Linked DNA regions of Homo sapiens: regions 1, 2 and 4 are each reported to be linked to region 3. Evidence: microRNA targets listed by miRTarBase, many of them from high-throughput screens and not tested one by one. Region 3 holds a microRNA gene; each other region holds the end of a gene's coding sequence.

Region 1 (4,183 bases), not on the chromosome of region 3:
CACTTCTCTTCCCTCAGTTATCCCAATTGTTAGTAAACTTCAAGGAGGCTGGGCATGATGACTCACACCTGCTATCTCAGAACTTTGGGAGGCGAAGATGGGCAGATTCCTTGAGCCCCGGTGTTCAAGACGAGCCTGGGCAATATGGCAAAACCTCATCTCTAACAAAACACAAAAATTAGCTGGGCCTGGTGGCACGTGCCTGTAGTCCCAGCTACTTAGACTGAAGTGGGAGGATTGCTTGAGCCTGGGAGGCAGAGGTTGCTCTGAGCCAAGATTGTGCCACTGCACTCCAGCATGGGTAACAGAGTGAGACCCTATCTCCAAAAACAAAACAAAACAAAACAAAACAAAACAAATCAAAACCAAACAAAAAACTTCAAGGAAGGCTCGGCACGGTGGCTCATGCCTGTAATCCCACCACTTTGGGAGGCTGAGGTGGGTGGATCACCTGAGGTCGGGAGTTTGAGACCAGCCTGACCAACATGGAGAAACCTCATCTCTACTAGAAATATAAAATTAGCCAGGCGTGGTGGCTCATGCCTGTAATCCTAGCTACTTGGGAGGCTGAGGTAGGAGAATCGCCTCAACCCGGGAGGCGGAGGTTGCAGTGAGCTGAGATTGCACCATTGCACTCCGGCCTGGGCAACAAGAGCAAAATTCTGTCTCAAAAACAAAATAAAACAAAAAAAACTTCAAGGAGATGTGGATTCAGGGCTTGCTTTCCTTCCTTCCTTCTTTTTTTTTTTTTTTTTTGATGGAGTCTCGCTCTGTTGCCCAGGCTGGAGTGCAGTGGTGCAATCTTGGCTCACTGCAATCTCCGCCTCCTGGGTTCAAGCGACTCTCCTGCCTCAGCGTCCTGAGTAGTTGGGATTACAGATGCGTGCCACCACGCCAGGCTAATTTTTGTATTTTTAGTAGAGACAGGGTTTCATCATGTTGGTCAGGCTGGTCTCAAACTCCTGACCGCCTTGGCTTCCCAAAGTGCTGAGATTATAGGCGTGAACCACCATGCCTGGCCTAGGTTTTGTTTTGAACTGATATTCTGTTTCTTCAGCAAGTCCACATAAGAATGTGGATATGAAAGGATGAAAATCTACTGAAAGATTACATAAAGAACAGATAACAGGGACCCACAGAATAAATCAGAAGAAATCTATGAAATAGCCACAACTTCTTGAACATTAAAGTGAAGGGAAAAAAAGCCACATTCATCAGATTAAACAGAAGCTATTAATTTTTTTCTTCCATTTATAGTGTGGATAGGAATTAAAGCAAAACAGTGAGACTGTATGGTTTTCAATACAAGTTCAAAGAAAGCAACAAAATCTTCTGTTTTAGGAAATCATATTAATATCTATTACAAATGCAGAAAGCAGGGGGGCTGAGTCAATGCCCCAGCACCAACCATACTGGTTATAGTGTGGAAGAGGGGCGGGTGAGGTGGAAGCTGCCAGAGAGAGCAGGAGGATCAGCACTGGAGTGAAGAGGAAGCACGCAGCAGGAGAGGGCAAAGAGCACTGAGAAGAAGAGGGGAGCAGTGGGCCATGATTGTGCCCTTCTTGCTTCTCCAGAGACCCTTTCCTATGCAGCACCCCACACCCAGCCAGACCTTATTGTGATTCTGGCTAGAAGTGTGGGGACTGACAGCTCATAAATGCTCCCACAGAGTTGATACAACTCTGCTTTAAGGAGGAGAATACATTTATTGGTCGAAGTGATTTAGAGAATATCATTTGGTAAATAAAACTACAATAGCCTATAAAATGTAACCTGCTAGTTTTCTGCCACGTTAGCATTAATATTAAGGCTTTTTTTTTTTTTTTGAGACGGAGTCTCGCTCTGTCACCCAGGCTGGAGTGCAGTGGCGCGATCTCGGCTCACTGCAATCTCCACCTCCCAGGTTCAAGCAATTCTCCCGCCTCAGCCTCCCCAGTGGCTGGGACTACAAGGCACAAGCCACCATGCCCGGCTAATTTTTTTTACTTTTTAGTAGAGACAGGGTTTTGCCATGTTGGCCAGGCTGGTCTTGAACTCCTGAACTCAGGTGATCCACCCGCCTCAGCCTCCCAAAGTGTTGGGATTACAGGCGTGAGCCACTGAATCTGGCTAAGGCTTTTTTTTTTTTTTTTTTTGCAAGGAAGGAATAAGGGGATTTATTGAAAATGAAAGTACACTCCACAGTGTGGGAGTGGGCCTGAGCACAGGGGCTCAAAACGCCTTTCTTGTTTTTGTATATAGAAAATATACATGCTTTCTCATCTAACCGATTTTTTTTTTTTTTTTTTTTTTAAGACAGAGTCCCACTTTGTTGCCCAGGCTGGAGTGCAGTAGGCATGATCTTGGCTCACTGCAACCTCCACCTCCTGGGTTCAAGCGATTCTCATGCCTCAACCAGGCGCCACCACACCTGGCTAATTTTTGTATTTTTAGTAGAGATGGGGTTTCACCATGTTGGCCAGGCTGGTCTTGAACTCCTGACCTCAGGTGATCCACCCACCTCGGCCTCCCAAAGTGCTGGGATTACAGGCGTGAGCCACCGCGCCTGGCCTCATCTAACCAATTTGGATTCTGGTTGGAGTTCAGGAAAAACTAAGTTCCCATTACTTCCAGATTATTTTAAAATAAAAAATCATGATGACTTGTGAGGAAAAGGAAGAACATGTCAGATCCTGAGCTTCCTCTCAGGCTTGAGTGCCTCAAGAGGACTGTATTGCTGTGTTACGAGAGGTACAGTGCAATGCTTTCATCTGATATGCCAGTGTGGTAAGAAGGCTTTCCCTGGAGGTAGAGACTCTTTTATCAGAAGGTTGGGGGTCTCCAGAAGGTTTTCCCCACCAGGAATTGGATTTGATGGCTGGAATTTAGAGCCTACACATTTGGGTCTCACAATCAGGGCAGGGCAGGTAAGGCTAATGGTGCAAACTGTGTCTCTGCACAGGCAGTCATCTAGGGGAAGGGGTGTGGTGCAGCCAGTAAAACCTGGAACCTGCAAGTGGTTCAGAACTTTGGTGGCCAGTAAGGGAAAAACTCCTCAAGCATGCTACAATATTGAAAGGTTCAAAAGCACTGACAAAGTGTTGTTTTGCCCCCGGTGCAGCACATAAGACTCTGTTCCAGTGAAATGCTACATTCAAAGTGCTGTCCACCTCAGAAGATCCCAGAGGATGCAATTCTGGCTGTGCTGGGAAGTGCTAAAGTTCCCTCCATATGTCACTTTGGAGAAGGAAGCAGCAAAGCAGCCATGTTGATTCCTCTCTCAACCTTTGGCATCATGGACGATGGTAGCTAAAAGAGATTAAAAAAGAGACAAGTTACCACATGATGTACATTGCTTTGCTATTAATGTATCAGTAGTAATGAAATGTTATACCTAATTAACACTGCCTTTCCTCTGCTCTAATTCGACCTGACCTTTCTGTTGCATCTGATACTCCTCATCTGCTTCCTTCTTAAAACTCTTCTCGGCTGGGCGCAATGGTTCACACCTGTAATCCCAGCACTTTGGGAGGCCGAGGCGGGCGGATCAAGAGGTCAGGAGATTGAGACCATCCTGGCTAACACGGTGAAACCCTGTCTCTACTAAAAATACAAAAAATTAGCTGGGCGTGGTGGCGCGCACCTGTAGTCCCAGCTACTCGCGAGGCTGAGGCAGGAGAATGGCGTGAACCTGGGAGGTGGAGTTTGCAGTGAGCCGAGATCGCGCCACTGCACTCCAGCCTGGGTGACACAGCGAGACTCCGTCTCAAAAAAAAAAAAAAAAAAAAAAAAGAACTCTTCTCTTGGCTTCTGTAACACTATCTTTTCCATAATTTTCTCTCTTCTTCAATTGATCTTTCTCAGTATGCTGTCCTGGTTCATTTTCCTCTGTCTACCCTTTAAATAAAAAACAACTTTCCTTGGCCAGTCACGGTGGCTCATGCCTGTAATCAATCCCAACACTTTGGGAGGCCAAGGTGAGAAGATCATTTGAGACCAGGAGTTTGAGAGCAGCCTGGGCAACATACGGAGACCCTGTCTCTACAAATGATCAAAAAGTTAGCCAGGTGTGGTGGCCTGTGCCTGTAGTCACAGCTACTGAGGAGGCTGAGGTGGGAGGATGGCTTGAACATGAGAGGTTGAGGCTGCAGTGAGCCACGATCATGCCACTGCACTCCAGCCTGGGTGACAGAGTGAGACCTTG
Region 2 (4,183 bases), not on the chromosome of region 3:
CTATTTGGAATTTCCCTTGCATCTTTCTTTTGACCACAAATATTTCATTATCTCTTTTACGCTTCTTACTAGCCAGAAGGAAAAACAGGCAAACAAAAAACCATTTCTGATTATGCCTGTAAGCAGTGAGAATTAGTAGTGGTATCTTTCCCTGCCTCAAGAAAATATGGGGGAATAGGCAACATATGATTTTGCACCTACGTTTCTCAAAGGTGCTCCATAGTACTTATTTTTAAAGCTTTCACAATGTATACATAATAAAAATGTTCAAAATGATTTGTAAACTCTCATCAGATCAAGATAATCCAGTGTAAAAAGAACTGCTGTTCAGTGTTGCTGCTGAATTCTCACAAAGACCCCTTCATAATCTTTGTTCACAAACAGGGAGCGTCTCGGCAGGCACTCCAGAGCTCTCACCAAATGAGGCACTGCCTATTAAGCAGCATGAAAGTACCTAAAGACTGCCCATAAAACAGGAACAAAGAAAACAAAGCTCAGTTTCACCTCCAGCCAAAAAGGAGTCTTCATGACCTATCAATATGTAAGATGAATACAGATCATGCTGACTTTCCTCAGAGAAAAGTCTAATAAAAAATGTCCTTATCAATATCTGCTTGAAATCTAGTTTATATGGAAAATGGAGAGCATAATACACTTCAAAATGCTACTAGTATCTACTACAGTGCTTATGTCCTATAAAATCCCTATGGACAAAAACAATTTTACCTGTGAATAAAAATTAGAAATGAAAGAGGTAGGTGACTATCATTTGAAGATAATCCCAAAACAACATGTTGAATAATATGCTTGAGTCCCCAAAGAGCTCTTTAACTGGACAATGAGTTCCAACATCGGTGCAATTTCCTTAAGAGCAGAGTTTCCCAGATATTTCATGATGTCTTCAACCTTTCAATGCCCCAACTCCTGATACAGTGCCACACTCTTCAGACATTTAATATTAAGAAATAGCTAATGAAGTAAAATGTAAAGAAGTAATACTGGAGACCAAAGGGTGAGGTGATGCTGAAGTCAGCTAGGCTCTTCAAAAATCTATACCCTAGTATAGAGGAAAGCACATTTGAGCTGGACAGGACGTTAGAGATTCATCTAATCCAACTCTCTGGTTTTACAAATGAAGAAATAGAAGCTTATTTTTTCCACTGGCTCACAAAACACTAACATCCTGAAAAGATGCTATAAATCCACAGTTAACTTACTTAATTAGTCAATGATGTAGCCAAGTGGCTATATTTTCAGCCCTTATCCCTGTGGGCTGTTTTATAAAGTGAGCCACTGGTAACAGAGAAGCTGACCAAGGCCCTAGATGCACCTGGGGGCAGACTGTCAGCAAGAGAAAAACAATTTGAAATGTCAGACATGCCCTATTAAAACTTGTTCTAGGCTCAGACGAGGGTTCATTTTCCCTTCTTTGTAGGAGACACACATCTGAGCACGTTCACAAACTCCAGCTCTGCTAGGGCAAGCATTGGGGCAACAATACTATTCTGCCCAGAACACTTACAACTAACACAGATGGACAACTGGAAACCTCCAAACCCGCAGGGGCAAGACCTACACATAGCTATCTTTAATTTCTCAATAATTGTCAGTCACTTGTTTTGCAAATCAAAAACAAAAAAAAAAATCACTGGTTTTGCTTCACAGCCTTATTTATCTAAGATTTTTAAGTCTCACATTAAAAAGTGGTTGTAGGTCAGATGTGGTGGCTCATGCCTGTAATCCCAACATTTTGGGAGGCCAAGGCAGGCAGATCGTTTGAGCTCAGGACTCTGAGACCAGCCTGGGCAACATGGTGAAACCTTGTCTTTACAAAAGAAAATACAAAAAAATAGCTGGGTGTGGTGGCACACACCTGTGTGTGCGTGTGTGTGTGTGGTTCCAGCTATTCAGGAGGCTGAGACAGGAGGATTACCTGAGCCTGGGAGGTTGAGGCTACAATGAGCCATGATCACACCACTGCACTCCAGCCTGGGTGGCAAAGCGAGACTCCAAAAAACAAAAAGTGGTTGTAAGTGATTTTATTTTTTCTTTTCTATTTTCCAGTGTTTCTGTAATGCTTTCATATTTCTTTTGGTAGTTAGAAAATAAAGGCTAATTTTTAAAAAGAATATCATAGTCTAAAAAATTAAAGGATGCATAGAGTTCCCTCTTGACTATGTGACATCTAAACTGAATGAACTGTCTGCGTGGCACAGTGGAACAGCGCAGTCTCAGGATTCTGACAGATTTTTGGATCCCAGCTCTACCACTAACCTTGGGCAGGATTTTAGTCCCTCTGAGACCTGCTTTCTTCACCTGTAAAAATGAAAACAATAATACCTACCTCACAACATCCTGTAAGGATAAAATGATGCACAGTGCCTGACACATAGGTGTCCATAAATATCAACCCCTTCTCCCTATACTCCACAAAAACCCTTGAGTAAAAGGAATCACCACAGCCTGTACCAGCCACTTGCCATCCCCCTCACTACATTCACCTTTTAAATTTGCAAGGATCCTGTCTCCTAGATTTTGCGCTATTGCTTGAAGAGTTGCTATTGTGCTTAGAAAAGTATCTACATTTTATGTTCTCTTTTACAACTGTACATGCAGATAAAACATTTCTTAAAACTATCTTCCCATAAATGATAATGCACATTTCCTAAAGCACATATCATGTATAAAAACAATTCTGAAAAATAAGACTGAATTAATTTGTACATTATCTCTTAAAGTGCACCAAAGTAAATAGTAATGACCCTTAAAATGTCGCTAACCTTCCTGGGTTAGTTTTTAAAATAAAACTAAATATATATTGATTGAGATGTTTGGCTCCAATGTGATGGTAAAAGCAGCAGTGTCTTCCAGAAAAAAAAAGTCTTGATAAACTCAAATAAGCATACCTTAGCAGCACACGAAACACCTACAATTCAATGTAACTGCAGGCTCAATAAAGCACAATCCTGATTCCCACTATGAAAACAAAATCAATCAAGGAAAAACCCCAAAACCAAAAAAAAGTCTCCTCACCCTAAATTGAGGATTTCTATTGAACCCTGGAGGTAATATTTGTAATCACTTTCCTATTATTTATTCTTGGTAACAGAACTATAATTACCATTCTTTCTTTACACTGCTCACACACATACATACACAAACCCTATAAAAAAAAATAAAGTGGAGAGGCTATGAGAAAGAGAATTCAATGTCAATAAAGAACAAGCATCACCCAAAATGTCAGCCAGTTCCAATATTCACACCACCGTCCGATGTTCCCCACACACATAGACAGCACTAGGACGTATCCGTCGCTTTGTGTGACCAGGGAGCTGCGGCAAAAACTTGAAGGACTTAGGCATCATGTCCAGGCAAGCATCATGGAATTTCTTAATCCTCCAGTAGTAGATCAGCGGATTCAATGCAGACTTGAGGTAGCAGAGCCACAGTAGCCAGGTGCTAATCTCAAAAAAGTTGTGCTGATAGTAAAAGTGCTTACTGAATGTTGCCACAAGGCTGTAAGTGGTGAATGGGGCCCAGCAGACAATGAAGACAGCAAAGAGAATCAAAATAGTGGTGAAGGCACGTGTTTTAAAGCCCATGTCAATGCTCATCTGGAAAGGTCTCTGCAGACTCATGAGACCCAGTTTGCTGGCCTGGCTGAGGCATATACCTTCAGGGTAGCTATGGATCCTCAAGGCATTGTGCCGAAGGGTGTTGAGTATGCCCATAAATGAGTACAGTATTACCAGGAAGGGTATGAAGAAAGAAATGAGAGAAATCAAAATCACATAAGCCTGGTAGCCTGGATTGGTTGTGTACCCAAACACACACTGGGGAGCTCGGGAAGGTATCTGCAGGTCGGGGTTTCCTACGGCTAAAGGAAAAGCTACACAAAAGGAAGTTGCCCAAGAAACTGCAATCAGAACCTTAGCTCTATATGGGTTTAGCTTATCCTGCCTCTGGACTATAATAAGGAACCTATCTATGCTAATGATGAGCAGGATGGCTACTCCTTCTATCACAAATAACCAGAAAAACATAGCAGATACCCTACAGAAGAATTTCCCAAAAATCCATCGGGTAGTAAGAATAGTTACCAGGGCAAAGGGCATGTTCAGCACTGCAAGCAACATGTCTGCAAAAGCTAGGCTGGCAAGGAGGATGTTAATTGCAGACCTCA
Region 3 (4,370 bases):
ACTAGAAACATTTTTAAGACAGTCTTGCTCTGTCGTCCAAGCTGGAGTGCAATAGCGTAATCTCTGGTCACTGCAACCTCCACCTCCCTGGTTCAAGCGGTTCTCCTTACATCAGCCTCACAAGTAGCCCACCACCATGCCAGCTACTTTTTTTTAGTAAGATGGGGTTTCATCATGTTGGCCAGGCTGGTCTCGAACTCTTGACCTCAGGGGATCTGCCTGCCTTGGCCTCCCAAAGTGCTGTGATTACAGGCGTGAACCACTAGGCCAGGCAGAAATACTCATTTTGAAATTACCCCAATCCTATCACACCTCATTTCCTTGCTCTTTTCCTACGCATCTTCGCCTAAATCAGTGCACATGAAATTGATGCAATTTTGCCACAACTTAAATCTTCAACTTTAAAGAACTGTACCATGTAAGGTACCTTAGAAAACATACCCAACCATCTCAATTCATAAAGGAAATTTAAAGCCCCAAGTATGAGAACATCCCTAGATCACGATTCTTCCTTCCACTGGAGCAAGGGGCTAGGCAGCAGAGGGGCAGGATGGGAAACTCCACTGAATTTCCTTTCAACTTTCTCACCCCTGGAGACTTTTAAATGTATTACTGCTCATGATCAGGCAAGGGTGGTTCACACCTGTAATCCCAGCACTCTGGAAGGCCACGGCCGGTGGATCACTTGAGGCCAGGAGTTCAAGACCAGCCTGGCCAACATAGTGAAACCCTGTCTCTAATAAAAATACAAAAAATTACCTAAATCCTGTCTACTCTACCCAGGAGGTGGAGGTTGCAGCAGTGAGCTGAGATCACACCACTGCACTCTAGCCTGGGAAACAGTGAGATTTTGTCTCAAAAAATAAAATAAAATAAAAAAAAATACTACTGTTCATAGTAGTTGGAAAAAGATGGAATGCTAATGCACAAATTCGTCTCATTCCTAGAATGATAAATGCTCAAACTAGACTAGTGAAATGAGACATAAGAGTTTTTACAAGGTAGTGTCTGCCTGAGCAAACTCAAATAATTACTCAAGTAAAGAAAGGAGGCTGTCCTGGCCAGCACTTTGGGAGGTAAAAGCCAGAGGATAATCAGGAGTTCAAGACCAGTCTGGGCAATATGGTGAAACCGTCTCTACAAAAATAAAATTAGCCAGGCATGGTTGTATGCACCTGTAGTCCCAGTTACTAGGAAGCTTGAGTCCGGGAGGTCAAGGCTGCAGTGAGCTGTGATCATTTCACTACACTCCAGCATGGGTGACGGAATGAGACCATCTCAAAAACAAAACAAAAAGGAGGGTGATCCTGAGCAGTTAATTGTCTGTACAAAGTCACACAAGTGTTTACAAAAATGGAAGAGCTGGAAATTGCTCGTGTTAGCTTTATTAAAACATCTGTAAATGACCATCCAATCACCAAATTATTGCTAATGAAAAATGAAACTAAGAACAAATCATAATAATTACAAATGAAAAATGCATCTACTACTGCAAGGATGGGGATAAGGGTTAAGGATGACTTAAAAAGCACTAGTTTTGAAGTATGCAGTGTTTTTATTGAAAAGATGTATAACTTTTAACAAAATATGTAACACTATTACCCAGTCAAGACAACCACTTTCATTTTATTGACCTTCCAGTTCTTGTACATATTAAACAGACAAATCACTGTTACATACCATAATGAGCAGCAGCTCAATTACCCATTCCCAAACCATGCAATTCCACCCCAGCCGCCCCAAATTTTAAATCCAGAAGACAAACCTAGAAAAGCAGCAAGATAAATATTTACAAACATTGTAGAAAAACAGCAGTATTTCAAGTTTTGTTAAATTCTTTCCTTCAGACATAATGTAGACATAGAGGAGGAACAGCTGAGAGTCTCTGCATCACAGAAAGAGAAACCTGAGCAAAAACAAAACCATGCTTTCTAAACTTTCCAGTGACACCAAAAGGGAGACACTAGCAACTAAGTGTACTTCAGAAGTCTCAAATTCTCATTAGTTGACTTTCAGTTATCAATGTCAGCACCATGCTGCAGTTTATAATCACTAACGCAAACACTGCTCTCTTTGATATTCTTGCAATGTTTTCATTTGAAAAAACCTACAGAAAGAACTCTGCTTACACCAAAGCAAAGTAGCAAGGAAACAGGTTATCGGTGAATAATAAGGCCCTAAGAAAGGCAGCAGGTCGTATAGTTACCTCCTTGTGGGCAAAATCCCTGCCCTAAAACTATGCAACCTACTACCTCTTCCTAGGAACCCATTTTTTTTTTCTTGCTGGTCTTCTACTTGGCAGATGCACTTCAAATTAACCTGTTAAATTAGGTCATGTTCTTTGAGTTTTGTTTCTAATTCAAACTAATCAGAATTCTTTAACTAATGCTTTTGAAAAGTTATCTGGCCATATGACCTTGGTAAAAAGCCACAAATACATTTGCTTAAAATCCAACCTCAAGTCACAAACGAACAAGAAAGTAATGACATCAGAGGATGTAAGCCAGTAGTCTAATACTCAGCCCACCACGTATTACTGGAGTCGCTGACTTTTAACATTTAATTATCAATTTTTTTTTTGGACAGTCTCGCTCTGTCACCCAGGCTGGAGTACAGTGGTGTGATCTCGGCTCACTGCAACCTCTGCCTCCTGGGTTTAAGTGATTCTCCTGCCTCAGCCCCCAGAGTAGCTGGGATTACAGGCGCCCACCACCACGCCCAGCTACTTTTTTGTATTTTTAGTAGAAACAGGTTTTCACCATTTAGGCAGGCTGGTCTCAAACTCCTGACTCAGGTGATCCGCCCACCTTGGCCTCCCCAAAGTGCTGGGATTACCGGCATGAGCCACCACACCCGGCCTAATTTTTGTATCTTTATTAGAGACTGTGTTTCACCAGGCTGGTCAGGATGGTCTTTAACTCCTGACCTCAGGTGCTCCACCCGCCTCAGCCTCCCGAAGTGCTGGGATTAGAGGTGTGAGCCATGGTGCCCAACCCAGTTACCAACATTTAAATATCAAATTTCATAAAATCTCCAGTCTCTCCTGTTAACTGGAAAAGTAGGTGACAATGTATATAAACCCTGCTTGCTACCTATCAACCAGAGCAAATTAATTTACTATATTTGCCAGTTACAACTAGCCCCTCCTGGGCCTCTGATGGTATTTCAGTTTTTGACCCCTGAATTAAAGCAAACAGAAACAAATTCTGATCATGAATTTTATCATCATTAAAAACAAGCTTTCAGAGATAGTCATTCTCTCCATAAAGGCATTTTTAAAGTTTTATTTCGATTTACTTACTCTGCTTAGCTAATAACAATGTCCTTATGTAATTAATAAAATATATAAATTAATTTTTCTCCAGGGCTTAATTATTAGATAAGGATACGTTTCCAACTGAAGGTGGCAACGTTATGCTGGAAGAACATGTCAGGAAGACCACAAAATTTCATGACTGTACTTGCTACACTTTCAGCAGAAGAGTTATACATATTTTCAATTCAACAAAGATTAAGCCAAAAAGAATTCTTAGAACATTCCCACTCTTCTTTGGCACATCAAAAGGCAACAAATGTCATTTTCTCCCATGTTTTTATGTGCAGTTTAGAACAAAGACCAATTATCTATGCAGCTGTCCACAGTGGATAAAACAAAAAGCATACATTTGGTCCAGAGTTAAGTCACCTGGGTTGGGCCCATCCAAGGAAGTTTGATGTTTCTACTCTCATGAAAAGTACCAATGGCACTGCACAGTGATTATCTTAGATATTAAGGATAAACACAAATTTCTCCTTAAATTTCCATTTATTGGAAATGATTGGAGGGAGGGAACTTCTCCCTCACCTCCACACTGCCTCTTTTCCAACTCTTCTTCCAACACAAAATAGTTTAAACAGCAAGCACTTAGAGAGCTTTTAGCCTTGCTTGTTGATTACAAGGCCCAAGTTAGTGTATGGTTTGCCCATCGGAGGAAAGCTAAAACATGGGCCTTCATGGGTATTAAAATTGAAGAAACCTTTTCCAGCATTTTTTCTATTTTCTTTAAAGTAACAACCTATGGACTTCCCCATCTGACATTTTCGAGTGATCCCACTGTGTGAATGAAGGACTACTTCAGGGTTTGAGGGCAAAGCTGAAATCTTAGCAACTTACCAGTGAGCAAAGGTAGAACCCAGAGCCCATCTCTCCTTTTCCAGGCTGCTGAGTAAAGTCTGGCTCAATCAACCTATCAATGAAGCAGTGCTTACAACATTCTCCAAGACCACCCAAAACCCAAACTGGAAATGAATCATGACTAATCTGACTCATTTTGGCTCACACAGTGCCCTTCCAATTTGTATTTACCTTTACCACCCAGGACCTGACCTTG
Region 4 (4,183 bases), not on the chromosome of region 3:
CCCCAGGGCTAGATTGTTAGCTGAGTCAGGTCCAAGGGTGGTTGCAAGGAAACAAAGGAACGGGTCGCACTCGCTCTCAGGAAGGCCATTCAGACTCCATTCTCATCTGAAGACAAGGGTGGCCACACCAGTCTGGAGTGAAATCAGTTTCTAGGAGGCAGGGAAAGGAGGAGCTGATCAGTACACAGGAAGAAGGCAAAGGGCAACAGAAGGAGTCAGCCACAAACCTGGAAGGTGGGGAGGAAAGACCAGAAATCACTATGAAATAGACAAACCCAGGACAGAACTTGGAGTTAAATATCCCACTGTACAAAGAACAAAAAGCCCTACTGTGAGAGGGGAAAAAAATAGAAAAGCCTCTAGGCCTTTTATAAGCCTTCTCACAGGCTGTCCACACCCATGGAAGGACGTGGTGGGAAGGGACAATCCCTAGTGAAAACACCTGCTCTGCAGGTCCCACAGCAACACCGCTCCTGAAGACAGGCTGCAGGAGCTGCTTTCTGGTTCTCGATCTTCATGAACTCCCTGCTGCCTTTCTTTTAGAAAACAGAAGGACACAATGAAAAGCCTATGGAAAAAGTTCAGGGGTCATATTATGGCTGCTCCACCTTATGAGCTATGTAGTCTTGGGCAAGTTCCTTAACTTCATTGCTCTTTCCCCGTCTGTAAAATGAGGATACTATGATCTTAGAGCAAGCAGCTGGCACATTACTAGGAAATATAAACACACTGTCTACCCTCCTGTTCAGAGACCTCTCTCCCTTGGGTGACATGGAGGAAGAGGAGAGTCCAGACCTAGGCAACAATCAGTCTTGACTTTGTTAGGGAACATGGAATACACTACAAAAAAAGCAGCTTAACAACTGCTCAGCAATTTAGCAGGTTAAAGATAGGGTTAGTCAACCAAAAACAACATATTAATTAGTCTGCTCCTCTTTGAGGAGTTACGTCCTGAAAAATGATTCATATACCTTCTGAAGTCCTGGAATTAGGAATAGAAAGGGGCACCACAAATTTGCATATCATCTTTCATCCAAGGATATGGAAAAATAACAACTCTTATATCTTTTTAAAATTTCAACATCTATTTCAATCAGATTGTTCAGAGCCAAACCAAAATTTAAAGTTCACATACAAAAAAGTCAAGGGCTAGACTCCAAGTGCCAGAAAAAAGAGGGGAAAAAAAAAATCAACCAACCACCTGTCTATGAGAGGTTGTTCATCTCACTGTTGCTTATCTTTCAAGATGAAGTTGAATGCTCAATGCTGTAATAAGCTGACTTTTAGATCCCCTGGTCACATGGAAGGAGGAGGAATAAGAAGAGACACACTGAAACAAATATAAAAGGAAGGCACAGCTCTGGGTACTGGCATGGTATTATGTGCCAAGTCTTAAAAATGTTTATACCTGTTATTTCAGTACTCCAACTTATATGAGTTGGTAATAAAGAGAAAATTTAAATGAGAAAAATATTAAATAAGGTTAGTCACACTGTTAGCTACAGCAAAATAACATAAACCTCCAACATTGTGAAAATGTTAAATATTTGAGAGTATGGCCACAATCTCATATTGAAAATTAGATTTACAAAGAGATTTTAATGCTGTGGAATGATGCTTATAATTTTCTAACTGGGTACAAAACTGGATAATATAGTCTGAACTATGTAAAACTATGTCTGAGTATGTGAACGTGCCACAAGGTTATCAGCAATAATATTAAAAGTTCATTAGTTTTATGTTTTCTGTATTTTATAGGTTTTTTTTTAACAATGCATGCTATATTTTATTCAGAAAAATATTTTAAAAGTCACTGGCTGGGCGCAGTGGCTCATGCCTGTAATCCCAGCACTTTGGGAGGCCAAGGCAAGTGGATCGCTTGAGTCCAGGAGTTCAAGACCAGCCTGGGTGACATGGCAAAACTCCATCTCTACAAAAAATATAAAAGTTATCTTGGCGTGTTGGTGTACACCTATAGTCCCAGCTACTCAGAAGGCTGAGGCGGAAGGATCACTTGAGCCTGGGAGGCAGAGGTTGCAGTGAGCTAAGATCGCACCACTGCGCTCCAGCCTGGGCGACAGAGCAACACACAATCTCAACAACAAAAAAAAATTGTTTGTTTTAAAGTCACAAAAGTCTTAATAGTCCCAATAACCAGATTGATATGCTCACTACTATTAAACGTGATTCAGGCCGGGTGCAGTGGCTCACGCCTGTAATCCTAGCACTTTGGGAGGCCGAGGCGGGTGGATCACCTGAGGTCAGGAGACCAGCATGGCCAACATGGTGAAACCTCGTCTCTACTAAAAATACAAAAATTAGCCGGGCGTGGTGGCAGGCACCTATAATCCCAGCTACTCGGGAGGCTGAGGCAGGAGAATCGCTTGAACCCAGGAGGCGGAGGCTGCAGTGAGCTGAGATCGCGCCACTGCACTCCAGCCTGGGGGACAAGAATGAGAAACAAACAAAAAACAACAACAACAAAAACGTTTTTTGTTTGTTTTGATTCAGGCCGGGCGCAGTGGCTCACGCCTGTAATCCCAGCTTAGGCGGGCAAATCACCTGAGGTCAGGAGTTCAAGGCATTCTGGCCAACATGGCAAAACCCCATCTCTACTAATAATACAAAAATTAGCTAGGCGCTGTGGCATGTGCCTGTAATCCCAGCTACTCAGGAGGCTGAGGCAGGAGAATTGCTTGAATCCAGGAGGCGGAGGTTGCAGTGAGCCGAGATCATGCCACTGCACCCCAGGCTGGGAGATAGAGCAAGACTCCGTCTCAAAAAAAAAAAAAAACCAGTGATTCAGTGGTAAGTCTATCACTTTTAACAAATTTTCAAGAAAATGAATAGTCTAAATTTTAGCATCGCTATCCTCTAAGGTTCTCCAGGCTTTATAGTTAATGATAAGTGGCTACCTTCTTTTACAAAGAGAAGCTAGGTCCACTATTAGCTGTGTGAACTTGGCCCTGTTATTCAACATTCTCTTTGACTGAGTTTCTTTGTCTGTAAAATGTGCATAACACTGTATCTGTCTCAAAGGATGTTGTAAGGATTCAATGATATGTGTATAAGGTGTTTAGTACATTGTCTGGTACAACACAACACTCAAAAGTGTGTTAACTATCATCATTTAAGACCCAACCACTCAGCAACAGAGAAAACTCTGCAGATCCAAATCCCAATTCAGAGTTTCATTTACATTGAAAAGGATACAGAAAGTAAAGCCCAACATCCATGAAAATCAGTAAGAATTCAGAAGACAGACTCCAGATCCAAGACAGAGATGTACCCAACTTAGAAGCATGCTTCCTGAGTAAGGGGAGTCACCTGGGGTGCTCAGGTATGCTGGGAGAAGTGGTAATACGACAAGACAGAGATTGGGGACAGAATCTACAGGATAAGAACAAACGGAGAGCTCATCCACGTACTGCAGCCAGAAACCAATAGAACTATAAGGAGATAAAGAATCCACAGGCTACTGAAAGTTTTAGAAAGCTCAGTGTGTCCAAGGACAATCATAGGGGGAAAGAAGAGGAATTTGAAATCCCAAGCTAATTTCCTCTTGAGGAGCCAAATCCAGAGTCCCCAAGAACCACTCGTTTACTTACATTTCAGTGCAGCAGCCTCTTAGGCCACTCTTAATTCAGCCCAACGGAAAGTCCAATAATCAATGCTAAAATGCCCAGCAACACAACTACTAGCACAATGATAATTATCAATTTCTGGAGAGAGGAATAAGACAAAAACAAATCATTATTACAAACAACCAAAAAAATAACAACTCATCCAAAACCTAACCCCTGTCACCTCTACATAGAAAATATCTTACCAGTCTGAGTAAGAGGCCTACATCTCTACATACAGACATCCTTCTAGGATACTTCATTTATTTTTAAGACAGGGTTTTTCTCTATCACTCAGGCTAGAGTGCAGTGGCATGATCATGGCTCACTGCAGCCTCGACCTCCTGGGCTCAAGTGATCCTCCTGCCTCAGCCTCCTGAGTACATAGGACTACAGGCATGCACCACCATGCTCAGCTCATTTTCTTTATTTTTGTAGAGACAGGATCTTCCCATGTTCCCCAGTCTGGTCTCAAATTCCTGGGCTCAAGCAATCCTCTCACCTCGGCCTCCCAAAGTTCTGGGATTATAGGTGTGAACCACCACACCCAGCCTAGGACA

What was found. The annotated mature microRNA hsa-let-7d-5p reads AGAGGUAGUAGGUUGCAUAGUU and lies in region 3 at 2,235-2,256, opposite strand. An mRNA with a match to its seed (bases 2 to 7 or 8) in the 3' UTR can be bound and repressed. Matches are read on the target gene's strand: a 7mer-m8 pairs with bases 2 to 8, a 7mer-A1 pairs with bases 2 to 7 and ends in A, and an 8mer does both.
Region 1: the mRNA of PHACTR4 is a reported target of hsa-let-7d-5p. Seed matches in the 3' UTR shown: 7mer-m8 at 2,785-2,791 and 8mer at 569-576.
Region 2: the mRNA of GPR63 is a reported target of hsa-let-7d-5p. Seed matches in the 3' UTR shown: 7mer-m8 at 752-758.
Region 4: miRTarBase lists STX3 as a target of hsa-let-7d-5p. The part of its 3' UTR that is shown has no 7-base or 8-base seed match.

The regions. Positions count from the first base shown.
Region 1 is chr1:28,495,639-28,499,821 of GRCh38, reverse strand. It overlaps PHACTR4 (phosphatase and actin regulator 4), which reads right to left. Exons shown (of 14, transcript NM_001048183.3): 14 at 1-3,288. The coding sequence ends at 3,273. Among named protein-coding and RNA genes, the nearest start is that of SNHG3, 8.2 kb to the left of the region's middle.
Region 2 is chr6:96,795,215-96,799,397 of GRCh38, forward strand. GPR63 (G protein-coupled receptor 63) reads right to left here. Exons shown (of 2, transcript NM_030784.4): 2 at 1-4,183. The coding sequence ends at 3,258. Among named protein-coding and RNA genes, the nearest start is that of GPR63, 40 kb to the right of the region's middle.
Region 3 is chr9:94,176,727-94,181,096 of GRCh38, reverse strand. It overlaps MIRLET7D (microRNA let-7d), which reads right to left and starts at 2,263; the gene lies at 2,177-2,263. MIRLET7A1HG (miRlet-7a-1/let-7f-1/let-7d cluster host gene) reads right to left here. Exons shown (of 5, transcript NR_170278.1): 3 at 1,176-1,277. It overlaps LINC02603 (long intergenic non-protein coding RNA 2603), which reads left to right. Exons shown (of 3, transcript NR_160773.1): 3 at 3,366-4,370. RefSeq lists an enhancer at 1,803-1,852.
Region 4 is chr11:59,796,822-59,801,004 of GRCh38, reverse strand. STX3 (syntaxin 3) reads right to left here. Exons shown (of 11, transcript NM_004177.5): 10 at 3,609-3,722; 11 at 1-150. The coding sequence ends at 3,639. Among named protein-coding and RNA genes, the nearest start is that of MRPL16, 12 kb to the left of the region's middle.